4 separate regions of the Homo sapiens genome follow, and regions 2, 3 and 4 are each linked to region 1. The links come from fine-mapping of genetic effects on gene expression. A gene starts in region 1. Each other region holds a variant in brackets. All regions are shown on one strand. Distances are between the middles of the regions.

Region 1 (8,102 bases):
TGTCCATGTGACTCCACTGGGAGAGGATGACTGGAAGCTCACACCTGGTCTGTCCTGGACTCTGCCCTGGGTGCCTCTTCCCTTTGCTGACTTCAGTCTGTATCCTTTCACTGTCATAAACCATAACCATGAGTATAACAGTTTCCAGCCAGGCGTGGTGGCTCATGCCTGTAATCCCAGCACTTTGGGAGGCTGGGGCGGGTGGATCACTTGAGGTCAGGAGTTCGAGACCAGCCTGGCGAACAGGATGAAACCCTGTCTCTACTGAAAATACAAAAAATTAACTGGGCGTGGTGGCAGACGCCTGTAATCCTAGCTACTCTGGAGGCTGAGGCAGGAGAATCACTTGAACCTGGGAGGTGGAGGATGCAGTGAGCCGAGATCCCACCATTAATTACACTCCAGCCTGGGCAACAAGAGTGAAACTCCATCTCAAAAACAAACAGACAGACAAACAAAAACAGTTTCCTGAGTTCTGTGAGTCAATGATTCTAGCAAATCATTGAACCTGAGGGTGGTCATGGGCACCTCCAGACTACAGTGCTGTACTAGACTATGCAGGATTCAGTTCTGCCTCTGCTACCATTGAGCCTCTGGGCAAGTGACTGCTGCTCTCTCGGCCTTATCCCTCATGACTGTCACCTGGACATCCTGCACATGAGGTGCCAGACCCTGCCCTGGTGCTCAGCAAGTGTGACTGTGGTTGTAATCACTCAGCACATGCTTCCTCTGGTCACCGTTTCCTCATCTGGACAATGGCACTCATAATGTTTCCTCATTCCCAGAACCCTGCTGCTTTCTAGCTGTGTGACCTTGGACAGGTCACTTCACCCTTCTCAGCCTCAGTTTCCTCTGTTGAAAATGGGGATTATATGTTCCACAAAGGGTCACTGTGAGTAATCATTGAGATGTGCAGAGGACCTCGCATGCTGCCTGGACCACAGTTGGTGCTCAGTAAGTGAATCCCAGCATTGTTCTAAGTTCTTCGTAGGTGTTATATCATTTAAGTCTTTCATCTGCTCTATGAAGCATCCCTTTTATTATCCCCATTTTCCAGATGAGGAGACTGAGTCCCAGAAGAAGAGTCACTTACCTACAGCCATGCAGTTATTAATAAAGTGAGGGAGATGGGACTTGAACCCAAACAAGTCAGTCTGACTCAAGAGCCTGACATTTGCACAAGATGCAGAGAGATATCTGAAGGGGGCATTTGGTGGTGGTAGTCGGAGGGAGGCCCACAGGGCAAAACTCAAAAAGCAGACCACACAGCTCCTTCCCCTTGGATCAGAGATTTGGGAGAAGGGCAGCAGCAGGCAGAATGGGGGCAAGACGCTACGAGGGACTGACCCCACAAGCAATGGAAAGCTGAGCAGTTCTGCTCCGAGTCTCCTGGCCATAGTGCAAGCAGGGGGCTGGCCAAGACAGGCAGGGGTGCTGACCTGCATCTGGACCCCGGGGATAGCCTCGGATTCGGTCATTGAACTCCTGGCACCTGTCGTTGGTGTCAGCATCTCGGACCCGCGCACAGAGGTCCGAGACCAGGATGAGTGCCCGCCGGCAGAGGTCATCCTCGTAGTCTCCTGACATGGTGGCCGTCTGGTCCTGTGTGTGGGAGGGATGGGGCAAGGGTGCAGATGGGAAACAGAATGGGAGTGCAGGGTGGGCAGGTGTGGAGATAAGGGTGGAAAGAGACACCGAGAAAAGGAAGGATGGGCAAAGGGGACAGAGATTAGGGGCAGATGGATTAGGGATGGAGATTCGAGGAAGAAGGACAAGGTGACAGGTATTAGGGATGGACAAGGAAAAGGAATTAGGAGTAGACAGACAAGAGGGCAGAAATTAGGGATGGAGATAGTAGCAGGGACTGGGTAAGTCAAGGGGACAGAGATGGGCATGAGTGGAGTAGAGGACAGAGAACAGGGACAAATGAACAAGGAGGAAGAGATGGAGAAGGGCAGTGAAGGGGCTAAGAATGAGGATGCACAAATAAAGGGATGGACAGATGAGGAAACAAAGATTAGGGCTGCACAGATGAAGGAACAGGAGTTAGGGATGAGCAGACAAGGTGCCAGCCATTCATCATTCATTCATTCAACAAACATCCATCCAGCACCAACTACGCCCTACGTGCTGTGCTGGTTGCTGCGAATCCAGCAGAGAACAAGGTCCTGGAGTTCCCTGACCTCCCGGTGTCACAATCCAACGAGAGGAGACATAGAGTAAACAAGCAAACAAAAACACATACACAAACCGGTCACTGTCAGACTGTCTGTGAGAAGCGCTCCACAGGACACAGCTGGAGAATGTGTCACAAAGGAACTCAGAGGGGGGCGGTCAGGGAGGGCTCTCCCAAACCTGAAGGATGACATGGAGCCAGCCACAGGCGGGGGGCAGTGGCGCCAGGATGGGAAAAGCATTTTAAAGAAAAGCATTTTAGACAGTAGGAGCAGGATGACAGGGGCTTAGGGTAGGAAAGCAGTTGGAGGGTCCAGGGACCAAGGAGGCCAGACTGGGGTAGACGCGGGGAGGGCCAGGAGAGAAGGATGGATGTGGGTAGAGAGATTGGAGGTGGATAGGTATGGTGGGAGCTGGGGGTGGAGAGGTGGAGATGCAGAGATGGGGACCAAGTTGAGGGAGGGAGAGATACAGGGAGGGGAGACAGAGATAATGTGAAGGGCAGACTGAGGCTCCGAAGAGATGGAGAGGTGAACAGGCAGGCAGAAGGAAAGTCAAGGATTGAGACTTGGGATGGACAGTGACAAGGAATGAACCGAGATGTAATTAATTCACGGGGGCTTGAGAGACGAGAGGACGAGAGACGGTGAAGAGGGGCAGGCAGGAGTGTGGGCAGAAATATCTTTGAAAGAGAAACGGTCGAACGGGAGGATGGATGGGTGGGCAAGGACAGCAGATGATGGCTAGAGATCGCAGATAGACAAAAGGAGACAGGAGGGCTGGGCAGACAGACATGGGTTCATAAGGGAAGGTTCAATGAGCACATAAATGAGAGGAGGCTAGGAAGGAGAGGTGGATGTGGGGAGAGGGGGAATTAGTGACACATGGCTCGGAGCCAGGCATCAAGATGGGTTGAAGGGGATGCAGGGGAATTAGGAACAGACAGACCAGGGCTCACAGATGGACAGGTGTCGTGGGGGTGCTGCAGAAGGCCAGGACTCCAAGACAGGCATGGCCACACTCACCTGCGCTTATCTCTGCCGTGTCCTGGGTGGCAGCCGAGGCGGCGGCGGGCGGCAGCCCATGGGGGTTCTAGGGCGGACAAGGGGCTGTGGACCCGTTCCCACGCGCCGGGTAATGAGAGAGAATGTCTGATCTAGGGGCTGAGGCCGGGAGAAAAAGCTCAGCTTAACAGTCACATCTTGCCCTACTCGAGCCAGCTGCCCGACCCCAGGCGACCCACTGGGAGCCCGGCCACCCCCTCCCACCTCCGGGCCCCCAGCTCCCGTTGAGGGCTTAGAGACTACAATTCCCGGCAGGTCTCGCGCTCGCGCTGCTGCGGCTTCATAGACCCGGCGCTGCAGGATCTGCTGGGAGTTGAAGTCCTTAATGCCTCCGGGCTGCAGAGAGGATGGGATTTTTTTTTTTTTTTTAAGGTTTTGGGGGGTTAAGATGCTGGGGTCCCAAGACGCTTCAGGGGAGGGGAACGATGTCCGGGACTTCGAAAAGCCACGGAGCCCTAAGTCCTTAGGGGCCACGGAATGAGGAAACGATCCCCCCGCGCTGGGGATCGGTGGGCGAGGGGTGGGATACACCCAGGTGTTTCGGGACCCCCTTCCAGGGCCACGTGCCCCTCCCCCGGGGTGGCCAGAGAGCGCTGCAGCGCTCCCACTCCCCGGCCCGAGATCCACGCGCCTCTGCATCTACCCCGCCCCCATGCGCCGGGGCCGACCCCAGGGATTTGACTGGGGCTGGGGCTGTGGCAGGAGGAGGGGGAGGAGCGGACTCACCCGGAGCCGCCGCTGCCGCCGCTGCCGCCGCCGCCGCCGCCGCAGCCCCGCGCGCCAGCCGCGGTGCCGGCTCGGCTCCTCCCCTCGCCACTGTCGCAGGTCCGCGGCTCCTCCCCCTGCACCCCCTCCTTCCCCCACTCCGAACCCGCGGCAAGAAAGCCGAAATCACTTGGCCTCAGCAAGGAAGCAGGGAGATTGCCCGGGACTAAGGCAGCAGAGACCCAGTGGGTTTCCACACTGGGGACCCAGAGATCTAGGATCACGACGTGCTGCTTCTCCAGGGTCCGGGGGCCCAGTTCTCCGCCCCGCTATCTCACAGAGGTAGAAGTCCGGGGACCCCAGGCCCCTCTTCCCAGGAACCCAGGACTTCAGGCCCTCCAACCTGAGCCGCTCTGAAGGCCGGTGGTAGGAGCGGAAGCTGAGACTCAAAGGTACAGTGCCACAGCCAGGATAGAGGTACTAGCAGGGACCTGGGTTTGAATCCCACCTGGGCCAACTCCTGCCTGTGTGCGCCTCTTGCTCTGAGGCCCCGTTTCCTCATCAGCAAAATACACACCATAAACTTATTTCCTAAGGGATCCACAGTTTGAAAAACCGGTCAGTGTAGACAAAACATTGGTACCAACTAGGTACTTAATGAATATTTCTCAAAAGTAGTGAGTAACAGTTTCTGGTATATTAATAGCAGTTAATGGCAATTGTCATTTCCTATAAGTGGTGAAGTGCTAAGTGCTTTGAAAGCGTTTTCTCATTTAATTTTCACTTGGGTGCAATTATGACATTCCCATTTCACAGAGGAGACAACTGAGGCCCATGGAGGTTAAATCCCTTGGGTAAGGTCTAGATCAGGGGTGTCCAATCTTTTGGCTTCCCTGGACTGCATTGTTGTCTTGGGCTACACATAAAATACACTAACAGTAACAATAGCTGATGAGAAAAAAAAAATCACAAAAAAATCTCATAATGTTTTAAGAAAGTTTACAAATTTGTGTTGTGCCGCATTCAAAGCTGTCCTGTGCTGCATGCGGGCCTCAGGCCATGGGTTGGACAAGCTTGATCTAGATCTACATAGCCTGGAGAGGTGGCTCGGAGGCCCCCTCAGTGCTCTCAATCAGTGACATCCAAATAAATACAACCTCTAGGTAAAAATCAAAGGCTGGGCTGACACCTGTAAATCCCAACACTTTGGGAGGCTGAAGTGGGAGGATCCCTTGAAGCCAGGAGTTTGAGACTATCCTGGACAACGTAGGAGACTCCATCTCTACAAAACAAAAAAACCAAAAAACCAAAACAAAACCAAACTAGTGGGTGTGGTGGCGTGCACCTGTAGTCCCACCTACGCAGGAGGCTGAGGTGGGAGGATTGCTGGAGCCCAGGAATTTTTTTTTTTTTTTTTTTTTTTTTTTGTGAGACAGAGTCTTGCTCTGTCGCCCAGGCTGGAGTGTAGTGGCGCGATCTGGGCTCACTGAAAGCTCCGCCTCCCGGGTTCACTCCATTCTCCTGCCTCAGCCTCCTGAGTAGCTGGGACTACAGGCGCCTGCCACCGTGCCCGGCTAATTTTTTTTGTATTTTTAGTAAAGACGGGGTTTCACCGTGGTCTCGATCTCCTGACCTTGTGATCCACCCGCCTCGGCCTCCCAAAGTGCTGGGATTACAGACGTGAGCCACCGCGCCCGGCCTAGCCCAGGATTTTGAGGCTGCAGTGAGCTATGATTGCACCACTGCATTCCATCCAGCCTGGGCAACAAAGCAAGACCCCCATCTCAAGAATAAATAGCCAGGTGCGGTGGCTCATGCCTGTAATCCTAGCACTTTGGGAGGCCAAGTGGGCGGATCACTTGAGCTCAGGAGTTCAAGACCAGCCTGGGCAACATGGCAAAACCCTGTCTCTACAAAAAATACAAAAATTAGCTGGGTGTGGTGATGCATGCCTGTAGTCCTAGCTACTTGGGGGGCTGAGGCAGAAGGATCACTTGAACCCAGAAGGTGGAGGTTGCAGTCAGTGAGCCAAGATTGTGCCACTGGGCTCCAGCCTGGGCGACAGAGTGAGACCCTGTCTCAAAAATAAACATAAATATGAATAAATAAATAAATATTTAGAGCAAGAAATAAAAATGTCAAAATAAGTAAGTAAATAAAAGTAAAAATTGCTTGCTGCTTCTGCAAATACAACTTTAAGCACGCATCCTGGGCCCTCCCTCTAATTAGATTACACCCTACCCCTATTGCTGCCTATGTGTACATTTTGCAGCCATTATACTACCACAGAACCCCCAGAAATGCCTCCCAGGTTTGCCGAGTCTCTTCCTTGTGGCTTCTTGCATCCCCCCAGATGGATGTGTGTTTACATCCAGGGAAGCATGTGCGGGTGTAAACCTACAGACCACGAGTGCAGGTCCCCATGCCAACTCTAACAGCCCGACCCTTGAACCCTGCTGGGCCTGCCCAGGGTCCACAGGTAGCCCTGTTCCACAGGGAGAGACACGCAGTGATGCACACACTCAGAGATGGGCACACAGATGGGCTTGCCACGCTGCCATGACACGTTTCCAAAGAGACGCTCGGATTCCGAGGCTGCCCAGGCATTGAGAGGCAGCCGTAGTGCACTGGTTTTCTGTGTGACTTTGGGGGCAGAGCACTGGGATTCAAATCCCAGCTCTGCTCCCCTCTCTATGCAACCTTGGAGGGGTTACTTAGATTCTCCATGCCTCAGTTTCCCTCTCTGTAAGTGCAGATAATAATACTTTAAAAAATCATACTCTGGCTGGGTGCAGTGGCACATGCCTGTAATCCCAGCACTTTGGGAGGCCGAGGCTGGCAGATCACCTGAGGTCGGGAGTTTGAGACCAGCCTGACCAACATGGAGAAACCCCGTCTCTACTAAAAATACAAAAATTAGCCGGGCGTGGTGGCACATGCCTGTAATCTCAGCTACTTGGGAGGCTGAAGCAGGAGAATCACTTGAACCCAGGAGGCAGAGGCTGCAGTGAGCCAAGATCATGCCATTGCACTCCAGCCTGGGCAACAAGAGTGAAACTCTGTCTCAAAAAAAAGAAAGAAAGAAAAAATCATATTGTATCTCACTGGGTTATTTTGAGGGTTAAATTAAATTCATGGAAGGTGCTTAGGAAAAATGGCTAGTGTTTAGTGTTGTCATAAATAAAAATTAAATGCATTTGCTCATTTAAACTTTAGCTGGACTTGACAAGTGAGGAAATTGAGGCTCACCAAGGGAAGCGCTCTGCCCAAGATCACACATCTGGAAAGTGTGAGTGGAGATTAAAAACTGTATGGGTCTGGACCAAGTGCAGTGGCTCACACCTGTAATCCCAGCACTTTGGGAGGCCAAAGGTGAGAGGATCCTTTGAGCTCAGGAGTTGAGACTTGCCTGGACAACATAGTGAGACCTCATTTCTACAAAAAATACAAAATTTAGCCGGGCATGGTGGCACACACCTGTAGTCCCACCTGCTTGGGGGGAGGCTGAGGTGGGAGGATTGCTTGAGCCCCAGAAGTCGAGGCTGTGGGGAAATGGAGGCTGCCCAGAGTCCCGTCCTTGTGCCTTCTTGCATCCCCCCGGATGGATGTGCGTTTACATCCAGGCTGGAGTGCAGTGAGCCATGATCGTGCCACTGCACTCCAGCCTGGATGTCAGAGTGAGACCTTGTCTCAAAACACAAAAAGAAAAAACAAAAAACGGAGTGGATCTGAATCCAGAGCCCTTGCCTTTAGCCACCATGCTGTTTGCATCTAGGACCCATTTGAGGACTTGCATGCTACTGCTGCTAGGAGTATAGAACAATATAAAGAACACCGGACAGGGAGCCAGGAGACAGAGATAGAATCTTCCATATTCATTCAACTCGATTCATGCAGTCATTTGAGAAATACTTTCTGAGCACCTAATGTGTGCCAGGCATTTTTTTTTTTAGACAGCAGGGATTCATCTGGGAACAAAATAGACTAAAATTCCAGGGTTGGAAGAGCTCATGGTCTAGTGGAAGAGACAGAAAATAATCAAATAACTACACATACTAGGATCCTCATACTAGGATCAATGCTAGGAAGGAACATCCATTGTGCTGTGTGTTTGAGAGAGGTCAGAGAAGTTCCTGAGCAAGTGACTTTTCAGCTGAG
Region 2 (8,102 bases), 750 kb before region 1:
CTGAGGCACAAGAATCACTCGAACTGGAGTGGGGGAGGTAGCAGTGAGCAGAGATTGTGCCATTGCACTCCAGCCTGGGCAACAGAGTGAGACCTTGCCTCAAAAAAAAAAAAAAAAAAAAAAAAGGTCGGGTGTGGTGGCTCACGCCTGTAATCCAGCACTTTGGGAGGCCAAGATAGGCAGATCACCTGAGGTCAGGAGTTCGAGACCAGCCTGGCCAACATGGTGAAACCCCGTCTCTACTAAAAATACAAAAATTAGCCGGGGGTGGTGGCGAGCACCTGTAATCCCAGCTACTCAGGAGGCTGAGACAGGAGAATCACTTGAGCCAAGGTTGCACCACTGCATTCCAGCCTGGGCGACAGAGCGAGACTTTGTCTCAAAAAAAAAGAAAAAAGAAAGTTAAAGTTGCTGTTTGATATCATTGTTTTTCTTGAGTGCAGATGGTGATGATAATAAGTTAAACTTATTCATGAACATTTCCTCGATGCTTTAGGACCCCCGGGGGAGGGAGCTGAGATACTCTGTCCTCACCTTACTGATGAGGAAACTAAGCCATAGAAAAGCATCACCTCCTAGGGCACAAGGACAGAGGCTGCCTCTGGGTCATTCAAAGTCTTCTGAAACATCACTTTTCTTGACTGCGCGGCATTGTGTCCACCTGCAAGATGTGGTAGATTTGATGTAACTTGACCTGCTGGAGATTCGGGTCCTTTGCAGTTTTTCATCACGGTGCATAGTCTGGGTAATTTCTTCTTTAGGTTCACTTCCAAGAAGTGGAATTTTGTTCAGGACAGTGCTTGTTTTCACACAGCTTTGGAGAGTTTGTCCTCCGTTGTTACTTTCCTCAAAGGTTAGAATGCTCAGACTCTCACTTTCATTTGAGTTAACTTGGGGGGAAAAAAAGGTTCAACACCAGCTTAATTTTTTTTTTCTTTTTGAGATGGAGTCTCGCTCTGTTACCCAGGCTGGAGTGCAGTGGTGTGATCTCGGCTCACTACAACCTCCACCTCCCGGGTTCAAGCGATTCTCCTGCCTCAGCCTCCCAAGGAGCTGGAATTACAGGGGTGTGGCACCATCCCAGCTAATTTTTGTATTTTTAGTAGAGATGGGGTTTCACCACGTTGGCCAGGCTGTATTTTTAGTAGAGATGGGGTTTTACCATGTTGGCCTGGCTGGTCTCGAACTCCTGACCTCAGGTGATCCACCCGCCTCACCCTCCCAAAGTGCTGGGGTTACAGGCGTGCGCCATCGCACCCGGCCTTCAGCTTAAATTTTTGCTACAGCGTATCTAGGAGTGTCAGTTCCCTTAGCGCTCACCAGCAGCGGGCAGAGGTCTGTTTCGTCGGGCGTGCTGGGCGTCCTGCCTCCCTTCCATGTCCATGGCAGATGTGGAAGTATAATAGCACACTTCCTCTGGAGAGTGGGAGGAAGGAGGGGCAGGGCCCGCGTTCAGGGCTGCTCCTGCCTCACCTCCGAGGTTCCCCAGCCAGGCATAAGTCACTTGCCTAGACTTGGGGAAGGTCTTCCAGTCAGGATGACTTCTCAAACTCTCAGTCCCAGCGCTGGGCAAGGCTGAGTGGGCTCCATGTCATCCCCCAGATTCCCAGGACTCCGGCTCTCTCTGCTTCTGTTTCCGGTGGCTGCTCATCTGGTTCAAGAGGGAATTCCCCTTCCCGGATGTCCTTCGGCTGTGGGAGGTGGGCCAGCCAGTTTGGGCGAGAGGCCTGAAGGGGTGGGCTCACCTGCCCTGGGAGGTTGGGCGGAGAGGGACAGACCCTGGTGGGACCTCAGGCCCAGGCTGGGCTATGACCTCCCTCCCTCCCTCTGTCCCGCACCCTCAGGTGCTGTGGACAGGGCTCCCTGGCCCCAATCTGCACCTGCTGGTGGCCTGCGCCATCCTGGACATGGAGAGGGACACCCTCATGCTGTCCGGCTTCGGCTCCAATGAGATCCTCAAGGTGAGGCTCCGGCCCCGCCCCCGCCCTGTCCCCCCTGAGCTGGGCGCTGCCCAGGGCCGCAGTACCTCCGGGGAGCAGGTGTTTAGTGTGGGATTATTGAAAGCCTGGTTAGTTGGGAGCGCAGTGGGGGTGGGGCCGCGTAGGTTTCCCTTCTGCCCCATGCCATGCCTGCTCCCAGCAAGGTCCTCCGGGCAGGTGGGTGGGGACCTTCCCTCCCCGAGTACGTGCTCAGAATGCTCCCGGAGGCCTGAGAAGCATGTCTCGCCCAGCGCACTTCTGAGCCCCCAGAGGGCCAGCCCGGTGTGTCTTCATTGTTTCCCAGCACGAAGCACAGAGTGGGCGCTCGGGCGGAGGTGGTTGAGTGCCGACTGGCGCCTGACCCACCCCCTCCCGCAGCACATCAACGAGCTGACTATGAAGCTGAGCGTGGAGGACGTGCTGACCCGCGCCGAGGCCCTGCACCGCCAGCTAACCGCCTGCCCCGTGAGTCCCCGTCCGCCCCGCAGCGCCCCGCCCGAACCCCGACCGACCCCCGCCCCCTTCTCACCTTCACCTTCCGCTTTTCGCTTCTCTCATCCCGTGCCTCCAGGAGCTGCCCCACAACGTGCAGGAGATCCTGGGGCTGGCCCCGCCCGCAGAGCCCCACAGCCCCTCGCCCACCGCCTCCCCGCTGCCTCTGTCGCCCACCCGGGCCCCGCCCACCCCGCCGCCCTCCACGGACACAGCCCCGCAGCCCGACAGCAGCCTGGAGATCCTGCCCGAGGAGGAGGACGAGGGCGCCGACTCCTAACCCCGCCAGGCAGCCTCGTTCTGCACAGGCACTTTAGCCCGAGCCAGGCACACCTGCGAGGGGGCAGGTGTGCTCCGCCGCCCTGCTGATAAGCTGGCTTCATTAAACTGACACTTCTCATGTGCAGTTGGCTTCTTGTTGGTGGGGGGAAGGCTGCCAAGTGGGCTCTGACCTGGTTGAGGAGGGGATGGTGGCTGGGCAGAGCCTAGGGTGAATGATTGGGGTTTGTGGAGGCAGGGCTTCCTGAGTTGCCTGATTTGTTTTTTTGTTTGTTTGTTTTATGAGATGGAGTCTTGCTCTGTCGCCCAGGCTGGAGTGCAGTGGCAGATCTCGGCTAACTGCAGCCTCCGCCTCCCGGGTTCAAGCAATTACCCTGCCTCAGCCTCCTGAGTAGCTGGGACTACAGGCGTGTGCCACCACACCCGGCTGATTTTTGTAATTTTGGTAGAGATGGGGTTCCACCATGTTGCCCAGGCTGGTCTTGAACTCCCGACCTCAGGTGATCTGCCTGCCTTGGCCTCCCAAAGTGCTGGTATTACAGGCGTGAGCCACCGCGCCCGGCCTGATTTGGGGTTTTTGGAAGAGGATAGGGTGCTCTGGGCTGTGGCGGCGACCTGGTAGCTGTGTGGGAACACTTCCCGGACATAACCAAGGTGGAAGGGCCTGCAGAGATGCACTCTGGGGAGCCTGCCCTCCCAGCTGCTGCTTGTGAGAAAAATCACCTCCTGTTCAGCCACTGTCAGCTGGGCTTTCTGTTACTTGCATTAGGGCCCATCTGGACTTCAGCCTCGTGACAGAGGTGGTCGCTGTGATTGCCATTTCCCGGTGGTGCAGGGCGTCCTTCCGGTTCCCTCTGTGCGCACCACCCCCCACCCTCCTCTGGAGCCCCACTGTCCAGGAAGAAGTGAGGGGCAGATTTT[T/TG]GGGGGGGCTCCAGGATGGGCGTGGCGCCTGCTAACTGCAGGGCTAGTGGTTCCGATGCAGGCAAACTGGGGAAGTAACTGAGCCACGGGGGAGGCTGGACCACACGGCTTTTTCCGAAAATACTTTAATGCGAGGTCCTCGTGTGGGTCGTGTTTTGGAGAGATAACTGGCCTTGGACTGGAGGGTGGCTGCCTTCTTCCTTTGCCAGGTCATGCGAGGGGCTGCTGGCCACCCCATGCACATGCCCCTGCCCCTCCATGTCAGATGCGTGCCCCTCGGGGCTGGCCGTGTCCGATGCAGGCCCCTTCCGGCTGTTGATCTTGATGGCGGCGCGCAGCGCCGACTTGACCGCCGTCTCCACCCAGCCGTGCGGGTAGGCGGTGTGCTCGCCGGCAAAGTAGATGCGGCCATAAGGGACCGTCCAGTCATCCTTTTCGGTTTGCCAGAGCGCCGGCGGCTGTACCACAAAGCCACCCTGGCTGTGCTGGTCCTCCGCCCAACGCTTGACGACGCCGGTGCCGTCCCAGAGCTGGCGCACGACAGGCCCGTGCAATGCCGCCACGTCGTCGAGCGCCAAGCGCAACGCCTCTTCCCGGCTCAAGCCGGCGAACGCTGCCGCCGCGTCCGACCACGTGTACGAGGCCAGCAGCAGCGCGCCCTCGCGCGGCGGCGGGTAGAAAATCATGCGCGACGGGCGATCGGTGTTTGAGTGGCCGCCTTCAATGTGCTCCTCGCGCCAGAAGGGCCTGCGGAAGCTTAGGAACACCTTGGTGGCCGGCACGTAGTGCAGCCTCCGCAGCGCCTCCTGCATGTGGCGGGGCAGCGGCGGCGAGAAGGTGATGCGCTTCACCGCCGGTCCGCTCGCCGTCAGCAGCACCACGTCGGCCTTCAGCACCTTCAGATTCCGCGCCGGGGGAGAGGTCTCGATCTGCACGTGCACATCGTGCGGTCCCTGGGTCATCGCCACCACGGGCGCGTTCAACAGCACAAGCCCGGACAGCGAGCTCAGCAGCGCGCGCGGCAGCAGGTCCCAGCCACCCACGATGCGGCTGTACCTGCAGGCGGGGCGGGGCGGGGTGGGGGCGTGACCTGGGCTCTGCGGCCCTGCCCCTCTGCCTTGCCCCACCCACCCCGGCAGCTGGCCCTTATGGGCACCGGCCCGCTCCCCCGTCATCCACCTCTCCCGACCCCGCCCGTCCCTGACATCCCAAAGGCCGCAGGAGTAGTGGATTGTGTCACCAGGGACCCCACCACTTCTCCCCTAGGCCGTGTCCTTTATCTGGGAACCCTTAGCCCCGCGACCATCAATTAGGCCACGCCCTTCACAACAGCCCCGCCCCCAGACCCAGAGGCTCCTCCCACTCCCTGCTACTTTCCCTGATTGCCCCCCGCCCCCCCCCCCTGCCCGCCAGCCCCGCCCCTTACTGGAGTCTGTCGCTGAGGCAGCTGTGGGCCCGGAGGGCCTCGGCGAAGCTGAGATAGAAGAAGCCATCCTCGGACATCACGTCTCCCAGAAGCTGCACGGCCGGCCGGCTCAGGTTCCCCTCCCCGAGAAGATATTCCTGCAGGTTGGGCACAGGCCGAGGTTAGGGCCCAGGCAGGCTGCACCCCTGAGAGAGCCCCTCCGCAGCTGGGCCTCCTGGTCCCATGACATGTCCTTGGACCGTAGGATCCTGTCCCCACTCTCTGACAGATGAGGGAAACGGAGGTCCAGACAGGGGGCGTGTCCAGCCCCCGGGTCAGGCAGGAAGGCGGTGGCAGGACTAGGGTGCCAGGTACCCGCCTTCTGACTCTCTGGGGAAGGCCTCATGGTCACTCTCTTTGCCCTGCATCTCAGCAGAACCAAGATCCCCACTTACCAAGAGCGTGTGCCTTTCAAACTTCTTCATCGCCTTTCTGCAGCCCAGTGCCTTGAGGTCTTTGAGGGCCTGTTGTGGAAGAAGCAGACATGGTGCTGAGCTGCCCGGGCAGCCAGGGTGGAGGCCGGGCCTGGAGCCCACACTCGGCTTCTCCTCGTGGTTCTGCCCACGGCTGGCCATTCACCACTCTCAAGCCCCTGGGCTTTTGCCCACACCATGCCCTCCGCCTTGCCCTCCACGGCAACTCAGATGCCACTGCTCCTCCGATATTACCGAACTGTTAACGCCGCCCATCCCCCCTCATTCGGCTGGCCCGGCTGGTCACAGCTCATCCCGGTTGCGTGTTATTTTGCCTATTTTTCAGCCAGCCAGCCAGACTGTGAGCTCCATGGAGGCAGGGATGTGGGCAGCTGGAGAGGAGACTGGGAGAGGGTCCCAGGCGTGCTGTGTCCTCCCGGGGGCTCAGTGATTATTTGTTGCCTGAATCACTGTGGCCACGGACAGAAGCTGGTCCCCTGTGCCACTGGTCAGTGCTGACAGGGCATGATGGCTGAGAAGTTTATCTACCGTCCGTCCCCTGCCCACAGCCCTCCTGTAGCTCCCCAGTGCCTGGAGCCACAGAATTCTTGCCCCTCAGCCTCATGTTCAAGGCCCCTGCTAGCCCCTCAATGTCTTTTTTTTTTTTTTTTTTTTTTGAGATGGAGTGTCGCTCTGTTGCCCAGGCTGGAGTGCAGTGGCGCCATCTCAGCTCACTGAAACCTCTGCCTCCCAGGTTCAAGTGATTCTCCCACCTCACCCTCCCAAGTAGCTGGGATTACAGGCGCCTGCCACCACACCTGGCTCATTTTTGCATTTTTAGTAGAGACAGGGTTTCATCATGTTGGTCAGGCTGGTCTCGAACTCCTGACCTCAAGTGATCTGCCTGCCTCGGCCTCCCAAAGTGCTGGGATTACAGGCGTGAGCCACTGCGTGCCAGGTACCCGCCTTCTGACTCTCTGGGGAAGGCCTCATGGTCACTCTCTTTGCCCTGAATCTCAGCAGAACCAAGATCCCCACTTACCTCAGTCCATGTCTTTTATGGCAGCTCTGGTTCTGTGAACAGTGTACAGTGCCCAGACCACCTGCCCTCAGGGCTCTCCCACCTACACATCTGGCACCTATTGTTTCCCTGCCTGTCTTTGCGTGGCACATGAGTGCGTGTTCTTCAGCACTTTGTTCGAATCTCACCCCCTCCCAGAAGCCTTGCTGCCCCCATCTAATTTCAGCCTTCTTCTTGGTCCACCTGGCTTCCCCCTTCTGGCCAGGACCTCAGAGGGAAGGCAGTGCCCCTTCACTCACTCATGCATCTCGCATCTCTCAGACTCCCAAACCAGTCAGTGTCAAGGCATAGAAATGACCTGGACATGGCCCCCATCCTGGTCTAGAAGGGGAGATGGGCAAGTGGGCTCTGACCTGGGTGGGGAGGGGATGTTGGGTGTGGCCAGTTCCTCCCTAAAGGTATCAGGGAAGGCTTCCTGGAGGAGGGGACATTGGAGCTAGTTCTTGAGGGCTGAGCAGGAGTTCCTGTGTGGGGAAGGGAAAGGCATTCTGGAAAGGGAGGGTGATACACAGGTATAGTGGGTGTGAGGAACACAGAGCTGGGGGCATGTGGACCACCATGAGGACAAAAATTTCTTAGAGGAGAAAAGAGCATGAGGCTGGAGGGGTGCAGAAGGGAAGGCCAGTCAGGGCTCAAAGCTGAGCCTGAAAAGATCAGACTTTGTCCTGGAGGCAGCGGGGAGCCACTGGGGGCTGTGAGCAGCATCACTCTGGGTGTGTGGGAAGACGTTTCTGGTACCAGGCTGGGGAGACTAGAGCCTGGGCAGCTTGAGAGGAGGCTGGGGGAGGGTCCAGGGCAGAGGAGGAGGCCTGAGCTGGGGCAGGCAGAGGGGAGCAGGGCACAAGCGTCAGGCGGCAGGGGTGGGCACTGATGGTGGGGGAGGTGGGCGAGGAGGAGGTCAGGAGGAGGATGGCTCCTAGGGGTCTGCCCGTGACTGCGGGATGGTGGGGCCATCGTGAGATGGGGGCACCGGGAGGAGGAACAGGTTTAGGGGAAGCTTCTGAGCCCAGTGTCCTGGGGAGGGACACAGATCAGGGTCTCGGGAGGCAGATGTCTCCATCAGCCCATGGATCTATGTTTAAGCCAGAGGTGGAGACTGGGGAGGTTATCCAGGACAGTGTGTGGGTGAAAGGGGAAGAGGCCAAAAGCTGATGCAGCTTTGGGGTCAGCAGTGTTTACGGGGAAGCTAAAGAAGGGAGTTGGGGCCGGGGGCAGTGGCTCACGCCTGTAATCCCAGCACTTTGGGAGGCTGAGGCAGGTGGATCACGAGGTCAGGAGTTCAAGATCAGCCTGGCCAAGATGGTGAAACCCCGTCTCTATTAAAAATACAAAAATTAGCTGGGCGTGGTGGCGGGCGCCTGTAATCCCAGCTACTCGGGAGGCTGAGGCAGAGAATTGCTTGAACCTGGGAGGCGGAGGTTGCAGTGAGCTGAAATGGCGCCATTGCACTCCAGCCTGGGTGACAGAGTAAG
Region 3 (8,102 bases), 560 kb before region 1:
AGTAAAATTATCCAGGCATGATGGTGCTCACCTGTAGTCCCAGCTACTCTGGTGGCTGAGGCAGGAGGATCACTTGAGCCCAGGAGTTTGAGGCTGCAGTGAGCTGTGATGGCACTGCTGCCCTGCATCTCAAAAACATGATGCCGTGTGATACAGCCAGATACAAGGGTATATGCTGTAGGATTCCACTTTTGTGAAATTGTAGAAAGAAAACACTAATATGGGCGGGGCATGGTGGCTCACGCCTGTAATCCTAGCACTTTGGGAGGCTGAGGCAGGCGGATTACTTGAGATCAGGAGTTCAAAAGCAGCCTGGCACCTGTAATCCCAGCTACCTGGGAGGCTGAGTAGGAGAATCGGGAGGCGGAGGTTGCAGTGGGCCGATCATGCCACTGCACTCCAGCCTGGGCAACAGAGTGAGACTCCAACTCAAAAAAGAAAGAGAGAAAGAAAGAAAGAGAGAGAGAGAGAGAGAAGGAAGGAAGGAGAGAGAGACACAAAGAAAGAAAGAAAGAAAGAAAGAAAGAAAGAAAGAAAGAAAGAAAGAAAGAAAGAAAGAAAGGGGCCAGAGGCCAGGCACGGTGGCTCACCCTGTAATCCCAGCACTTTGGGAGGCCGAGGCAGGTGGATCACGAGGTCAGGAGTTCAAGACCAGCCTGGCCAACATGGTAAAACCCCATCTCTACTAAAAATACAAAAATTAACCGGGTGTGGTAGCGAGTGCCTGTAATCCCAGCTACTTGGAAGGCTGAGGCAGGAGAATGGCTTGAACCTGGGAGGCGGAGGTTGTAGTGAGCTGAGATCACACCACTGAACTCCAGCCTGGGTGACAGAGTAAAAGAAAAGAAAAGAAGAGAAGAGAAGAAAAGAGAAAAGAAAAGGCTAATACGCAGGGGCAGAAAATGGATTAGTGGTTGACTGGGGGCAGTGGCAGTGGTTATGGAGAGACTGATTACTAGTGGACACAGGAAAACTTTCCGGATGATGGAAGTGATCACACAACCGAATACATTTGTCAAAATTCATTGCGTTTAAAATTGGTTCATTTAAATTCTTGTACATTGTTGCAAAATACACATAACACAAACTTTACCATCTTAGCCAATTTTTTTTTTTTTTGAGACGGAGTCTCGCTGCAATGCCCAGGCTGGAGTGCAATGGCATGGTCTTGGCTCACTGCAACCTCTGCTTCCCCGGTTCAAGCGATTCTCCTGCCTCAGCTTCCAGAGTAGCTGAGATTACAGGCATGAGCCACTTTCCCAGGACTTAGCCAATTTTAAGTGTACAGTTGCATTGTTGTGCAATCATCACCCCTACTCATCTCCACTCTTTCCTCTTGTAGAATTGAAACTGTTCCCATCAAGCAACTCCCACTGCCTTCCCTTCCCAGCCCCTGGGAAGCACGTTCTACTCTCTGGGAAATTCCCTATGAATTTGACTACTCTAGGTACCTCATGTAAGTGGAATCATACAGCATCTGTCTTTTTGTGATGGGATTGTTTCACTTAGCATGAATGTCCTCAGGCTTCACCCATGTTGTAGCATGTGTTAGCATTTCCTTCCTTTTTAAGGTTAAATAATTTTCCATTATGGGCCTGGTGCAGTGGCTCACACCTGTAATCCCAGCACTTTGGGAGGAAGAGGCAGGCGGATCACGAGGTCAGGAAATCGAGACCATCCTGGTCAACATGGTGAAACCCCATCTCTACTAAACTACAAAAAATTAGCCGGGCGTGGTGGCAGGCGCCTGTAGTCCCAGCTACTTGGGAGGCTGAGGCAGGGGAATCACTTAAACCTGGGAGGCGGAGGTTGCAGTGAGCCAAGATCGCACCACTGCACTCTAGCCTGGGCGACAGAGCGAGACTCCATCTCAAAAAAAAAATCCATTATGTGTATATACCACATTTTGTCGAACCATTTATTTGTTGATGAACAGCTGGGTTGCCTCCTTTACCTTTTGGGTATTGTAAATAATGCTGCTATGAAAGTGGGTTGCAAATATCTTTTTGAAATATTGATCCATTTTCTTGTACACAAATTATATTTTGATAAAGTTGGCTAAAACTAATACTCCCACCTAACATAACTATCTCTAGTGCAACTGCAGAAGCTTTCACCCCTTCTGCAAAGGGAGGGATCCCAAAGCCACATCCAATCCTCAGACCAAGATTTCTGGATATTGGCTATTCCTTTCATCAAGGGCACATGGAGTCTCTCTTGATCCTGAAAATTAATGTTAAGGCTGGGCACGGTAGCTCACACCTGTAATCCCAGCACTTTGGGAGGCCAAGGCAAGTGGATCACCTGAGGTCAGGAGTTCAAGACCAGCCTGGCCAGCATGGTGAAACCCTGTCTCTACTAAAAGTACAAAAATTAGCCCGGCATGGTGGCACACACCTATAATCCCAGCTACTCGGGAGGCCGAGGCAGAAGAATCACTTGAACCTGGGAGGCGGAGGTTGCAGTCAGTGGAGATTGTGCCACTGCACTCCAGCCTGGTGACAGAGCAAGACTCCATCTAAAAAAAAAATTAATGTTAAATGAAATTGTAGCCCCCTCAGCAACCCACCCCTGTGTATAACAGTGGAGGAAAAACAAGAAAACAATCACAATTCTCACTTGAAAGGGGAGGGAAGAGAAACAAAATAGTATATGCCATTTGCTAGACTTGCCAAGACTCCTGCACTTTCAAGAGACAAAAAACCGGCCTTTTAAAAAATTATTGCCAAGCTCGGTGGCTCATGCCTGTAATTCCAGCACTTTGAGAGGCTAAGATTGGAGGATCACTAGAGCCCAGGAGTTCGAGACCCAGCCTTGGCAACATAGCAAGACTCCATCTCTTTAAAAAAAAAAAAAAAAAAATATATATATATATATATATATATATAGCCAAGTGCCATGGTGTGCACCTGTAGTCCCAGCTACTCAAGAGGCTAAGGTGGGAGGATCGCTTGAGCCCAGGAGGTCAAGGCTGCAGTGAGCCATGGTTGAGCCACTGCAGTCCAGTCTGGACGACAGAGACCCAGTTTCAAAAAAAAAATTATTGAAGTACAACATACTCACAAAGAAACTCACAAATACCCAGTAAGTATGGATCAGATGACAGACTGAGCACACCATGTAACCATGGGTAACCAGCCCTGGGTCAGGAACTAGAACATTACCAGCTCTCCAAACCCCTCATGCTCCTTGTCAGTCACTTTTTTGTGTTTTTTTTTTTTTTTTGAGACAGAGTCTCGCCTGGAGTGCAGTGGCGCTATCTCGGCTCACTGCAAGCTCCGCCTCCTGGGTTCACGCCATTCTCCTGCCTCGGCCTCCCGAGTAGCCGGGACTACAGGCGCCTGCCACTATGCCTGGCTAATTTTTTTGTATTTTTAGTAGAGACGGGGTTTCACCGTGTTAGCCAGGATGGTCTCGATCTCCTGACCTCATGATCTGCCCACCTCGGCCTCCCAAAGTGCTGGGATTACAGGCGTGAGCCACCGCGCCCGGCCCCTTGTCAGTCACTTCTTCACCTCAAAGGTAACTACTACCCTGATTTCTGACACCATAAGTCAGTTTGCCTTGTTTTTGATCTTAATCTGCTTGGAATCCTACAAGCATAGAGACTTGTGTGTTGGAATTCTTTTTTTTTTTTTTTTTTTTTTTTGAGACGGAGAGTCGCTCTGTCACCAGGCTGGAGTGCAGTGGCATGATCTCAGCTCACTGCAACCTTCGCCTCCCAGGTTCAAACGATTCTCCTGCCTCAGCCTCCTGAGTAGCTGGGATTACAGGTGCGCACTACCACACCCAGCTAATTTTTTGTATTTTTAGTAGAGACAGGGTTTCACCATGTTGGCCAGGATGGTTTCTATTTCTTGACCTCGTGATCTGCCCATCTCGGCCTCCCAAAGTGTTGGAATTACAGGCGTGAGCCATTGCACCTGGCCTGAATTGTTTTATTCATCATACGTCTATGAGATTTGTCCATGTAGTTGCTGATTGTTGGAGGTTGTTCATTATCATTGCTGTATAAGAGTGTGTTATGAGCCAGGCACGGTGGCTCATGCCTATAATCCTAGCACTTTAGGAGGGTGAGGCAAGCAGATATCTTGAGCACAGGAGTTCAAGACCAGCCTGAGCAACATAGCAAGACCCCGTCTCTACAAAAAAAATACAAAAATTAGTGGGGTGTGGTGGTGCGTGCCTATCATCTCAGCTACTTGGGAAGCTGAGGTGGGAGGATGGCTTGAGCTTGGGAGGCAGAAATTGCAGTGAGCTGAGATCACACCACTGCACTACAGCCTGGGTGACAGAGGACAATCTTGTCTCAAAAAAAAAAGTGTGTTATGGGAATACATAATAATCTATGTATCCATTCTACTGTTGATTGACATTTAGGTGCCTTCTGATTTGGCATGATCACTTACAGTACTGCTATATACATTGAATTTTGGTGAACATATGTAGGCATTTCTGTATTTCTGTTGGGTATATACCTAGAAGTGTAATTGCTGGGTCCCAGGGTGTATGCATGGTGTGGGCATGTTCCTCTTTTTTTTTTTTTTTTTGAGATGGGAGTGGCCAGGCTGGTCGTGACCTCAAGTGATCCGCCGCCTCCCAAAGTGTTGGAATTACAGGCATGAGTCACCATTCCCAGCTTCATGTTCATCCTTAATAGACACTGCCAACCAGGTTTTCAAACTAATTTTCTCCATTTATACACCCGCCAGCAGTCTCTGAGAATTTCAGCTGCTCGCCAACATTTGGTATTGTTAGTCCTTTCAATTTTAGCAATTCTGGTGGGGCTGTAGCCGTGTTTTATTATGGTTTTAATTTACCTTTAGCCCAATGCCTAAAGAAATTTAACACCGTTTTGGGCCAGGCGCAGTGGCTCATGCCTATAATCCCAGCACTTTGGGAGGCCGAGGC[G/A]GGTGGATCACGAGGTCAGGAGATCGAGACCACGGTGAAACCCCGTCTCTACTAAAAATACAAAAAATTAGCTGGGCGCAGTGGCGGGTGCCTGTAGTCCCAGCTACTCAGGAGGCTGAGGCAGGAGAATGGCGTGAACCCAGAAGGCGGAGCTTGCAGTGAGCCAAGATCACGCCACTGCACTCCAGCCTGGGAGACAGAGCGAGACTCCGTCTCAAAAAAAAAATAAGAAAGAAATTTAACACTGTTTCAAATATTTATTGGGCATATGAACATGCTACTTTGTGAAATGTCAATTCACGCCATTCGTCCATTTTTCGACTGGTTTTTCTGCCTTTTTTAAAAAACAGGTTAGTAGGAGTTATTTCTTTATTTTTCTTATGAGTCTTTTGTTAGAATACATATTCTTCTCCCACTCTCTGGCTTGTCTTTTCATTCTCTTAATGGTATTTTTTGATGAGGATCAGTTTCTATTTTAATATAGTCCAATTTATCAACATTTTCCTTTATAGTTAAGGCTCCTTTGTTTCTGGTTTAAGAAATATTTTCTGGCCAGGCACACTGGCTCATGCCTGTAATCTCAGCACTTTGGGAGGCTGAGGAGGGAGGATCATATGAGCCTAGGAGTTCGAGACCAGCCTGGGCAACATAGCGAGACCCTATCTCTATTAACACAAACAAGTAAATAAAAGAAATATTTTCTTACCCTGAAGGTTCTGAAGATACTCTATGATATTTTCTTCTAGAAGTTTTATTGTTTAAGCTTTAACATTTAGATCTACAACACATCTGGAATCAATTTTTGTGTATGGTGTGAGGTAGAGGTCATATGGTTATCAACTGGCTCAGCCCTATTTATCCAAAAAGATCATCTTTTGCTTCTCACTGCACTGAAATGTTGCTTTTGTCATAAACCAAGTTACCGTATATGTGTGAACTTTTCCTGATTTTTCCGTCTTGTTCTTTTGGTCTATTTGTTTTTCCTTGCAAGAGTATGCTGCTTTAATTATTATTATAATAAGCCTTGCTCTCTGGAAAGTACTCTGGCTTTTTTTGTTTTTGACAAAGGGAATTTGTTGACTTATAGAACCGAGCTATATAACTAGCTTCAGGCATAACTGGATCCAGGCACTAAAATGAATCTTTAGCAATACCGCTCATTTCCCATCTGGGCTTTACTTTTCTGTATCTTGACTTCCCTCTCAGGCAGAATCTCTTCCCTCACGGTGACAAACAGGGCCCACAGCAGCTCGAAGCTTCCATACTATCATTTTAACAACCTAGCTTATCATTTTAACAACCTAGCAGAAAAGGGGTACTGCCTTCCTGAATGGTGATACCAAAGTCTCAAGGTTAGCTCTCATTGGCCCAACTTGGGTCACATGTCCATTTCTATAGTAACCATGTGTCTTAGTCCATGTTGTCTTGCTATAAAGGAAAACCTGACGCTGGGTAATTTTTATTTTATTTTATTATTTTTTTTTTGAGACAGGATCTTGCTCTGTCACCTAGGCTGGAGTGCAGTGGCGCAATCTTGGCTCACTACAATGTCCGCCTCCCAGGTACAAGTGATTCTCCTGCCTCCAGTGTAGCTGGTATGACAGGTGCCCGCCACCACACCTGGCTAATTTTTTGTATTTTTAGTAGAGACAGGGTTTCACCATGTTAGCCAGGCTGGTCTCGAACTCCTGACCTAAAGTGATCCACGAGGCTGGGTAATTTATAAAGAGAAAAAGGTGTATTTGGCTTATGATTCTGCTGGCTGGAAGATTGGGCATACAGAGAAAGTCTAGAGCTACTTCCACTCTTGGTGGAAGGAGAAAGAAAGCAGGGATCATGTGACAATAGAGGAAGCAAGAGAGGCAAGTGTCAGCCTCTCTTTAACAACCAACTCTAATGGGAACTAATGGAGGAAGAACTCACTCACCCACACTCCCAGGGAGGGCATTAATCTATTTGTGAGGGGTCCACCCCTGTGACCCAAACACCTCTCATTAGGACCCCATCTCCAACATTGGGGATCCAATTTCAAGAACGAAATTTAGAAGGCAGCCTGGCCAACACGGGGAAACCCCGTCTCTCCTAAAAATACAAAAATTAGCCGGGCGTGGCATGTGCCTATAATCCCAGCTACTCAGGAGGCGGAGGCAGAAGGGTCACTTGAACCCAGGAGGTGGAGGTTGCACTGAGCCAAGATTGTGCAACTGCACTCCAGCCTGGGTGACAAAGCAAAACTCTGTCTCAAAAAAAAAAAAAAAAAATTGGATGGGACATACATCCAAACTACTGCACATCATAACCAAGGTCATGAAGTACTCAGGTTGGCCAGGTCTGACTCTTGTTCTCACTCTGAGATCCCTGGCAAGATCCAGTCAAAAAATGTATATTTTGCATGGAGAGGAGTGATAGGAAAATCAGATGTTTAAGAGAATAAAAAGAGAAGCTATAGATTGTGAGAAAATCTTTTCAAAACACCTATCAGACAAAAAGCTGGTATCCAGGCCAGGTGTGGTGGCTCACATCTGTAATCCCAGCATTTTGAGAGGCTGAGGTGGGCGGATCACCTGAGGTCAGGAGTTTGAGAGCAGCCTGGCCAACGTGGCAAAACCCTGTCTCTACTAAAAATACAAAAATTAGCCTGGCATGGTGGTGGGTGCCTGTAATCCCAGCTACTCGGGAGGCTGAAGCAAGAGAATCACTTGAACCTGGGAGGCGGAGGTGGCAGTGAGCTAAGATTGCGCCATTGCACTCCAGCCTGGGCAACAGAGCAAGACCTTGTCTGAAAAAAAAGAAAAGAAAGAAAGAAAAAGAAAAAGAGAAAAGAAAGCTGGTATACAAAGAACTAAAACTTAACAATAAGAAAACAAACAACCCGCTCCCTCTCCATCTCCCTCTCCCTCTCCCTCTCCCTCTCCCATCTCCCCACGGTCTCCCTCTCCCTCTCTTTCCACAGTCTCCCTCTCCCTCTCTTTCCACGGTCTCCCTCTGATGCCGAGCCGAAGCTGGACTGTACTGCTGCCATCTCGGCTCACGCAACCTCCCTGCCTGATTCTCCTGCCTCAGCCTGCCAAGTGCCTGCCATTGCAGGCACACGCCGCCACGCCTGACTGGTTTTCGTATTTTTTTGGTGGAGACGGGATTTCGCTGTGTTGGCCAGGCCGGTCTCCAGCTCCTAACCGCGAGTGATCCGC
Region 4 (8,102 bases), 25 kb before region 1:
TCCTCATCAGCACTTGGTGTTATTCATGTTTTGGATTTTCACCATTCTAATAGGTGGTTGTCGTATGTCATCGTTGCTGTAATTTGCAATTTCCTAATGACATTTGATGTTGAGCCCCGCTTTTTTTTGGAGACGGAGTCTTGCTCTGTCGCCGAGGCTGAAGTGCAATGGCATGATCTCGGCTCACTGCAACTTCTGCCTCCCAGGTTCAAGTGATTCTCCTGTCTCAGCCTCCCAAGTAGCTGGGATTACAGGCATGCGCCACTACGCCTGGCTAATTTTGTATTTTTAGTAGACATGGGGTTTCTCCATGTCGATCAGGCTGGTCTCGAATGCCTCGCCTCAGGTGATCTGCCCACCTTGGCCTCCCAAAGTGCTGGGATTACAGGTGTGAGCCACCACGCCCGGCCCAAGTACCTTTTATTTATTTGTTTGTTTGTTTATTTATTTATTTTAAGAAACAGGGTCTCTGTTGCCCAGGCTGGAGTACAGCAGTGCAATCATAGCTCACTGCCGCCTCCAACTCTTAGATCCTCCTTCTCAGCCTCCCCAGTAGCTGGGACTACAGTTGTGTGCTGTCACACCTGGCTATTTTTTTATTTCTATTTTTATTATTTTATTTATTTATTTATTTAGAAACAGGGTCTCGCTCTGTCATCCAGGCTGGAATGCAGTGGCACTGGAATCTCTGCTGACTGCAACCTCTGCCTCCTAGACTCAAGTGATCCTCCGACCTCACCTTTCCAAGTAGCTGAGACCACAGGTGTGCAACACCACACCTGGCTAGTTTTTTGTATTTTTCGTAGAGATGGGGTTTCACCACGTTGCCTGGCTGGTCTTGACCTCCTGAGCTCAAGGGAATTACCAGCTGTGGCCTCCCAAAGTGCTGGGATTGCAGGTGTGAGCCACCACATCTGACCTTTTTATTTTTATTTTTTGTAGAGATGGCGTCTCAGTGTGTTGCCTAGGTTGGTCTGAAACTCTTGGCCTCAAATGATCCTCCTGCCCCAGCCTCCCAAAGTGTTGGGATTATAAGCGGGAGCCACCACACCTGGCCAACTATCTTTTTATTTACTTATTTGCCATCTGCATATCTTCTTTGTTGAAGTGTCTGTTCAGATCTGTTCCCTATTTTTAAATTGGGTTGTTTGTTTTCCTATTGTTGAGTTTTAGTTCTTTGTATACCAGCTTTCTTTTTTCTTTTTCTTTCTTTCTTTTTTTTTTTTTCAGACAAAGTCTTGCTCTGTTGCCCAGGCTGGAGTGCAATGGCGCAATCTCAGCTCACTGCCACCTCCGCCTCCCAGGTTCAAGTGATTCTCTTGCTTCAGACTCCCGAGTAGCTGGGATTACAGGCGCCCACCACCATGACTGGCTAATTTTTGTATTTTTAGTAGAGACAGCATTTTGCCACGTTGGCCAGGCTGGTCTCAAACTCCTGACCTCAGGTGATCCGCCCACCTCGGCCTCTCAAAATGCTGGGATTACAGATGTGAGCCACCACACCTGGCCTGGATACCAGCTTTTTGTCTGAAAGGTGTTTTGAAAAGATTTTCTCACAATCTATAGCTTCTCTTTTTGTTCTCTTAAACATCTGATTTTCCTATCACTCCTCCCCATGCAAAATATACATTTTTTAACTGGATCTTGCCAGGGATTTCAGAGTGAGAACAAGAGTCAGACCTGGCCAATCTGAGTGCTTCATGACCTTGGTTATGATGTGCAGTAGTTTGGATGTATGTCCCATCCAATTTTTTTTTTTTTTTTTTTTGAGACAGAGTTTTGCTTTGTCACCCAGGCTGGAGTGCAGTTGCACAATCTTGGCTCAGTGCAACCTCCACCTCCTGGGTTCAAGTGACCCTTCTGCCTCCGCCTCCTGAGTAGCTGGGATTACAGGCACATGCCACGCCCGGCTAATTTTTGTATTTTTAGGAGAGACGGGGTTTTCCCGTGTTGGCCAGGCTGCCTTCTAAATTTCGTTGTTGAAATTTGATCCCCAATGTTGGAGATGGGGTCCTAATGAGAGGTGTTTGGGTCACAGGGGTGGACCCCTCACAAATAGATTAATGCCCTCCCTGGGAGTGTGGGTGAGTGAGTTCTTCCTCCATTAGTTCCCATTAGAGTTGGTTGTTAAAGAGAGGCTGACACTTGCCTCTCTTGCTTCCTCTATTGTCACGTGATCCCTGCTTTCTTTCTCCTTCCACCAAGAGTAGAAGCAGCTCAAGACTTTCTCTGTATGCCCAATCTTCCAGCCAGAAGAATCATAAGCCAAATACACCTTTTTCTCTTTATAAATTACCCAGCCTCGTGGATCACTTTAGGTCAGGCGTTCGAGACCAGCCTGGCTAACACGGTGAAACCCTGTCTCTACTAAAAATACAAAAAATTAGCCAGGTGTGGTGGCGGGCACCTGTCATACCAGCTACACTGGAGGCAGGAGAATCACTTGTACCTGGGAGGCGGACATTGTAGTGAGCCAAGATTGCACCACTGCACTCTAGCCTGGGTGACAGAGCAAGATCCTGTCTCAAAAAAAAAAAATAAATAAATAAAAATAAAAATTACCCAGCGTCAGGTTTTCCTTTATAGCAAGACAACATGGACTAAGACACATGGTTACTATAGAAATGGACATGTGACCCAAGTTGGACCAATGAGAGCTAACCTTGAGACTTTGGTATCACCATTCAGGAAAGCAGTACCTCTTTTCTGCTAGGTTGTTAAAATGATAGTATGGAAACTTTGAGCTGCTGTGGGCCCTGTTTGTCACCGTGAGGGAAGAGATTCTGCCTGAGAGGAAAGTCAAGATACAGAAAAGTAAAGCCCAGATGGGAAATGAGCTGTATTGCTAAAGATTCATTTTAGTGCCTGGATCCAGTTATGCCTGAAGCTAGTTATACAGCTCGGTTCTATAAGTCAACAAATTCCCTTTGTTAAAAACAAAAAAAAGCCAGAGTACTTTCCAGAGAGCAAGGCTTATTATAATAATAATTAAAGCAGCATACTCTTGCGAGGAAAAACAAATAGGCCAAAAGAACAAGACGGAAAAATCAGGAAAAGTTCACACATATATGGTAACTTGGTTTATGACAAAAGCAACATTTCAGTGCAGTGAGAAGCAAAAGATGATCTTTTTGAATCAATAGGGCTGAGCCAGTTGATAGCCATATGACCTCTACCTCACACCATACACAAAAATTGATTCCAGATGTGTTGTAGATCTAAATGTTAAAGCTTAAACAATAAAACTTCTAGAAGAAAATATCATAGAGTATCTTCAGAACCTTCAGGGTAAGAAAATATTTCTTTTATTTACTTGTTTGTGTTAATAGAGATAGGGTCTCGCTATGTTGCCCAGGCTGGTCTCGAAC[T/G]CCTAGGCTCATGTGATCCTCCCTCCTCAGCCTCCCAAAGTGCTGAGATTACAGGCATGAGCCAGTGTGCCTGGCCAGAAAATATTTCTTAAACCAGAAACAAAGGAGCCTTAACTATAAAGGAAAATGTTGATAAATTGGACTATATTAAAATAGAAACTGATCCTTATCAAAAAATACCACTAAGAGAATGAAAAGAGAAGCCAGAGAGTGGGAGAAGAATATGTATTCTAACAAAAGACTCATAAGAAAAATAAAGAAAGAACTACTAACCTGTTTTTTAAAAAAGGCAGAAAAACCAGTCAAAAAGTGGACAAATGGCGTGAATTGACATTTCACAAAGTAGCATATTCATATGGCCAATTAATATTTGAAATGGTGTTAAATTTCTTTCTATTTTTTTTTTTTTTTGAGACTGAGTCTCGCTCTGTCTCCCAGGCTGGAGTGCAGTGGCGTGATCTTGGCTCACTGCAAGCTCCGCCTTCCGGGTTCACGCCATTCTCCTGCCTCAGCCTCCTGAGTAGCTGGGACTACAGGCACCCGCCACCGCGCCCAGCTAATTTTTTGTATTTTTAGTAGAGACGGGGTTTCACCGTGGTCTCGATCTCCTGACCTCGTGATCCACCCGCCTCGGCCTCCCAAAGTGCTGGGATTACAGGCATGAGCCACTGCGCCTGGCCCGAAACGGTGTTAAATTTCTTTAGGCATTGGGCTAAAGGTAAATTAAAACCATAATAAAACACGGCTACAGCCCCACCAGAATTGCTAAAATTGAAAGGACTAACAATACCAAATGTTGGCGAGCAACTGAAATTCTCAGAGACTGCTAGTGGGTGTATAAATGGAGAAAATTAGTTTGAAAACCTGGTTGGCAGTGTCTATGAAGGATGAACATGAAGCTGGGAATGGTGACTCACGCCTGTAATTCCAACACTTCGGGAGGCGGCAGATCACCTGAGGTCAAGACCAGCCTGGCCACTCCCATCTCAAAAAAAAAAAAAAGATGAACATGCACACACCATGTATACACCCTGGGACCCAGCAATTACACTTCTAGGTATATACCCAACAGAAATACAGAAATGCCTACATATGTTCACCAAAATTCAATGTATATAGCAGTACTATAAGTGATCATGCCAAATCAGAAGGCACCTAAATGTCAATCAACAGTAGAATGGATACATAGATTATTATGTATTCCCATAACACACTTTTTTTTTTTTGAGACAAGATTGTCCTCTGTCACCCAGGCTGTAGTGCAGTGGTGTGATCTCAGCTCACTGCAATTTCTGCCTCCCAAGCTCAAGCCATCCTCCCACCTCAGCTTCCCAAGTAGCTGAGATGACAGGCACGCACCACCACACCCCACTAATTTTTGTATTTTTTTTGTAGAGACGGGGTCTTGCTATGTTGCTCAGGCTGGTCTTGAACTCCTGTGCTCAAGCTATCTGCTTGCCTCACCCTCCTAAAGTGCTAGGATTATAGGCATGAGCCACCATGCCTGGCTCATAACACACTCTTATACAGCAATGACAATGAACAACCTCCAACAATCAGCAACTACATGGACAAATCTCATAGACGTATGATGAATAAAACAATTCAGGCCAGGTGCAATGGCTCACGCCTGTAATTCCAACACTCTGGGAGGCCGAGATGGGCAGATCACAAGGTCAAGAAATAGAAACCATCCTGGCCAACATGGTGAAACCCTGTCTCTACTAAAAATACAAAAAATTAGCCGGGTGTGGTAGTGCGCACCTGTAATCCCAGCTACTCAGGAGGCTGAGGCAGGAGAATCGTTTGAACCTGGGAGGCGAAGGTTGCAGTGAGCTGAGATCATGCCACTGCACTCCAGCCTGGTGACAGAGCGACTCTCCGTCTCAAAAAAAAAAAAAAAAAAAAAAGAGAGAATTCCAACACACAAGTCTCTATGCTTGTAGGATTCCAAGCAGATTAAGATAAAAAACAAGGCAAACTAACTTATGGTGTCAGAAATCAGGGTAGTAGTTACTTTTGAGGTAAAGAAGTGACTGACAAGGGGCCGGGCGCGGTGGCTTACGCTTGTAATCCCAGCACTTTGGGAGGCCGAGGTGGGCAGATCATGAGGTCAGGAGATCGAGACCATCCTGGCTAACACGGTGAAACCCCGTCTCTACTAAAAATACAAAAAAATTAGCCATGCATAGTGGCAGGCGCCTGTAGTCCCGGCTACTCGGGAGGCCGAGGCAGGAGAATGGCGTGAACCCAGGAGGCGGAGCTTGCAGTGAGCCGAGATAGCGCCACTGCACTCCAGGCGAGACTCTGTCTCAAAAAAAAAAAAAACACAAAAAAGTGACTGACAAGGAGCATGAGGGGTTTGGAGAGCTGGTAATGTTCTAGTTCCTGACCCAGGGCTGGTTACCCATGGTTACATGGTGTGCTCAGTCTGTTATCTGATCCATACTTACTGGGTATTTGTGAGTTTCTTTGTGAGTATGTTGTACTTCAATAATTGTTTTTTTGAAACTGGGTCTCTGTCATCCAGACTGGACTGCAGTGGCTCAACCATGGCTCACTGCAGCCTTGACCTCCTGGGCTCAAGCGATCCTCCCACCTGAGTAGCTGGGACTACAGGTGCACACCATGGCACTTGGCTATTTATATATATATATATATTTAAAGAGATGGAGTCTTGCTATGTTGCCAAGGCTGGGTCTCGAACTCCTGGGCTCTAGTGATCCTCCCATCTTAGCCTCTCAAAGTGCTGGGATTACAGGCATGAGCCACCGAGCTTGGCAATAATTTTTTAAAAGGCCAGTTTTTTGTCTCTTGAAAGTGGAGGAGTCTTGGCAAGTCCAGCAAATGGCATATACTATTTTGTTTCTCTTCCCTCCCCTTTCAAGTGAGAATTGTGATTGTTTTCTTGTTTTTCCTCCACTGTTATACACAGGGGTGGGTTGCTGAGGGGGCTACAATTTCATTTAACATTAATTTTTTTTTTAGATGGAGTCTTGCTCTGTCACCAGGCTGGAGTGCAGTGGCACAATCTCCGCTGACTGCAACCTCCGCCTCCCAGGTTCAAGTGATTCTTCTGCCTCGGCCTCCCGAGTAGCTGGGATTATAGGTGTGTGCCACCATGCCGGGCTAATTTTTGTACTTTTAGTAGAGACAGGGTTTCACCATGCTGGCCAGGCTGGTCTTGAACTCCTGACCTCAGGTGATCCACTTGCCTTGGCCTCCCAAAGTGCTGGGATTACAGGTGTGAGCTACCGTGCCCAGCCTTAACATTAATTTTCAGGATCAAGAGAGACTCCATGTGCCCTTGATGAAAGGAATAGCCAATATCCAGAAATCTTGGTCTGAGGATTGGATGTGGCTTTGGGATCCCTCCCTTTGCAGAAGGGGTGAAAGCTTCTGCAGTTGCACTAGAGATAGTTATGTTAGGTGGGAGTATTAGTTTTAGCCAACTTTATCAAAATATAATTTGTGTACAAGAAAATGTATCAATATTTCAAAAAGATATTTGCAACACACTTTCATAGCAGCATTATTTACAATACCCAAAAGGTGAAGGAGGCAACCCAGCTGTTCATCAACAAATAAATGGTTCGACAAAATGTGGTATATACACATAATGGATTTTTTTTTTTGAGATGGAGTCTCGCTCTGTCGCCCAGGCTAGAGTGCAGGGGTGCGATCTTGGCTCACTGCAACCTCCGCCTCCCAGGTTTAAGTGATTCCCCTGCCTCAGCCTCCCGAGTAGCTGGGACTATAGGCGCCTGCCACCACGCCCGGCTAATTTTTTGTAGTTTAGTAGAGATGGGGTTTCACCATGTTGACCAGGATGGTCTCGATCTCCTGACCTCGTGATCCGCCTGCCTCTTCCTCCCAAAGTGCTGGGATTACAGGTGTGAGTCACTGTGCCTGGCCCATAATGGAAAATTATTTAACCTTAAAAAGGAAGGAAATGCTAACACATGCTACAACATGGGTGAAGCCTGAGGACATTCATGCTAAGTGAAACAATCCCATCACAAAAAGACAGATGCTGTATGATTCCACTTACATGAGGTACCTAGAGTAGTCAAATTCATAGGGAATTTCCCAGAGAGTAGAACGTGCTTCCCAGGGGCTGGGAAGGGAAGGCAGTGGGAGTTGCTTGATGGGAACAGTTTCAATTCTACAAGAGGAAAGAGTGGAGATGAGTAGGGGTGATGATTGCACAACAATGCAACTGTACACTTAAAATTGGCTAAGTCCTGGGGAGGTGGCTCATGCCTGTAATCTCAGCTACTCTGGAAGCTGAGGCAGGAGAATCGCTTGAACCGGGGAAGTGGAGGTTGCAGTGAGCCAAGATCATGCCATTGCACTCCAGCCTGGGCATTGCAGCGAGACTCCGTCTCAAAAAAAAAAAATTGGCTAAGATGATAAAGTTTGTGTTATGTGTATTTTGCAACAATGTACAAGAATTTAAATGAACCAATTTTAAGCGCAATGAATTTTGACAAATGTATTCGGTTGTGTGATCACTTCCATCATCCGGAAAGTTTCCCTGTGTCCACTAGTAATCAGTCTCTCCATAACCACTGCCACTGCCCCCAGTCAACCACTAATCCATTTTCTGCCCCTGCGTATTAGCCTTTTCTTTTCTCTTTTCTTCTCTTCTCTTCTTTTCTTTTCTTTTACTCTGTCACCCAGGCTGGAGTTCAGTGGTGTGATCTCAGCTCACTACAACCTCCGCCTCCCAGG

The links. PIP is the estimated chance that this variant, and not a neighbour inherited with it, causes the effect.
Region 2: its variant is fine-mapped to the expression of SYT3 in prefrontal cortex (GTEx, PIP above 0.99).
Region 3: its variant is fine-mapped to the expression of SYT3 in prostate (GTEx, PIP above 0.99).
Region 4: its variant is fine-mapped to the expression of SYT3 in aorta (GTEx, PIP above 0.99).

Annotation. Positions count from the first base shown.
Region 1 is chr19:50,635,825-50,643,926 of GRCh38, forward strand. It overlaps SYT3 (synaptotagmin 3), which reads right to left and starts at 4,057. Exons shown (of 11, transcript NM_001160329.2): 1 at 3,966-4,057; 2 at 3,201-3,338; 3 at 1,440-1,602. The coding sequence starts at 1,587. RefSeq lists an enhancer at 3,368-3,662.
Region 2 is chr19:49,885,874-49,893,975 of GRCh38, forward strand. TBC1D17 (TBC1 domain family member 17) reads left to right here. Exons shown (of 17, transcript NM_024682.3): 14 at 1,603-1,700; 15 at 1,845-1,961; 16 at 2,358-2,444; 17 at 2,551-2,877. The coding sequence ends at 2,751. IL4I1 (interleukin 4 induced 1) reads right to left here. Exons shown (of 8, transcript NM_152899.2): 6 at 5,532-5,600; 7 at 5,098-5,234; 8 at 3,781-4,727. The coding sequence ends at 3,797. MIR4750 (microRNA 4750) reads left to right here and starts at 2,302; the gene lies at 2,302-2,357. It overlaps LOC124904743 (a long non-coding RNA gene), which reads right to left and starts at 1,603. Exons shown (of 4, transcript XR_007067293.1): 1 at 1,321-1,603; 2 at 573-890. RefSeq lists enhancers at 4,206-4,873, 4,874-5,542, 5,543-6,209 and silencers at 4,249-4,418, 4,649-4,838. The variant T/TG (reference allele first, on the strand shown) is at 3,672.
Region 3 is chr19:50,077,900-50,086,001 of GRCh38, forward strand. No RefSeq gene overlaps it. Among named protein-coding and RNA genes, the nearest start is that of SNAR-A4, 11 kb to the right of the region's middle. The variant G/A (reference allele first, on the strand shown) is at 4,912.
Region 4 is chr19:50,611,016-50,619,117 of GRCh38, forward strand. No RefSeq gene overlaps it. Among named protein-coding and RNA genes, the nearest start is that of SNAR-F, 10 kb to the left of the region's middle. The variant T/G (reference allele first, on the strand shown) is at 3,369.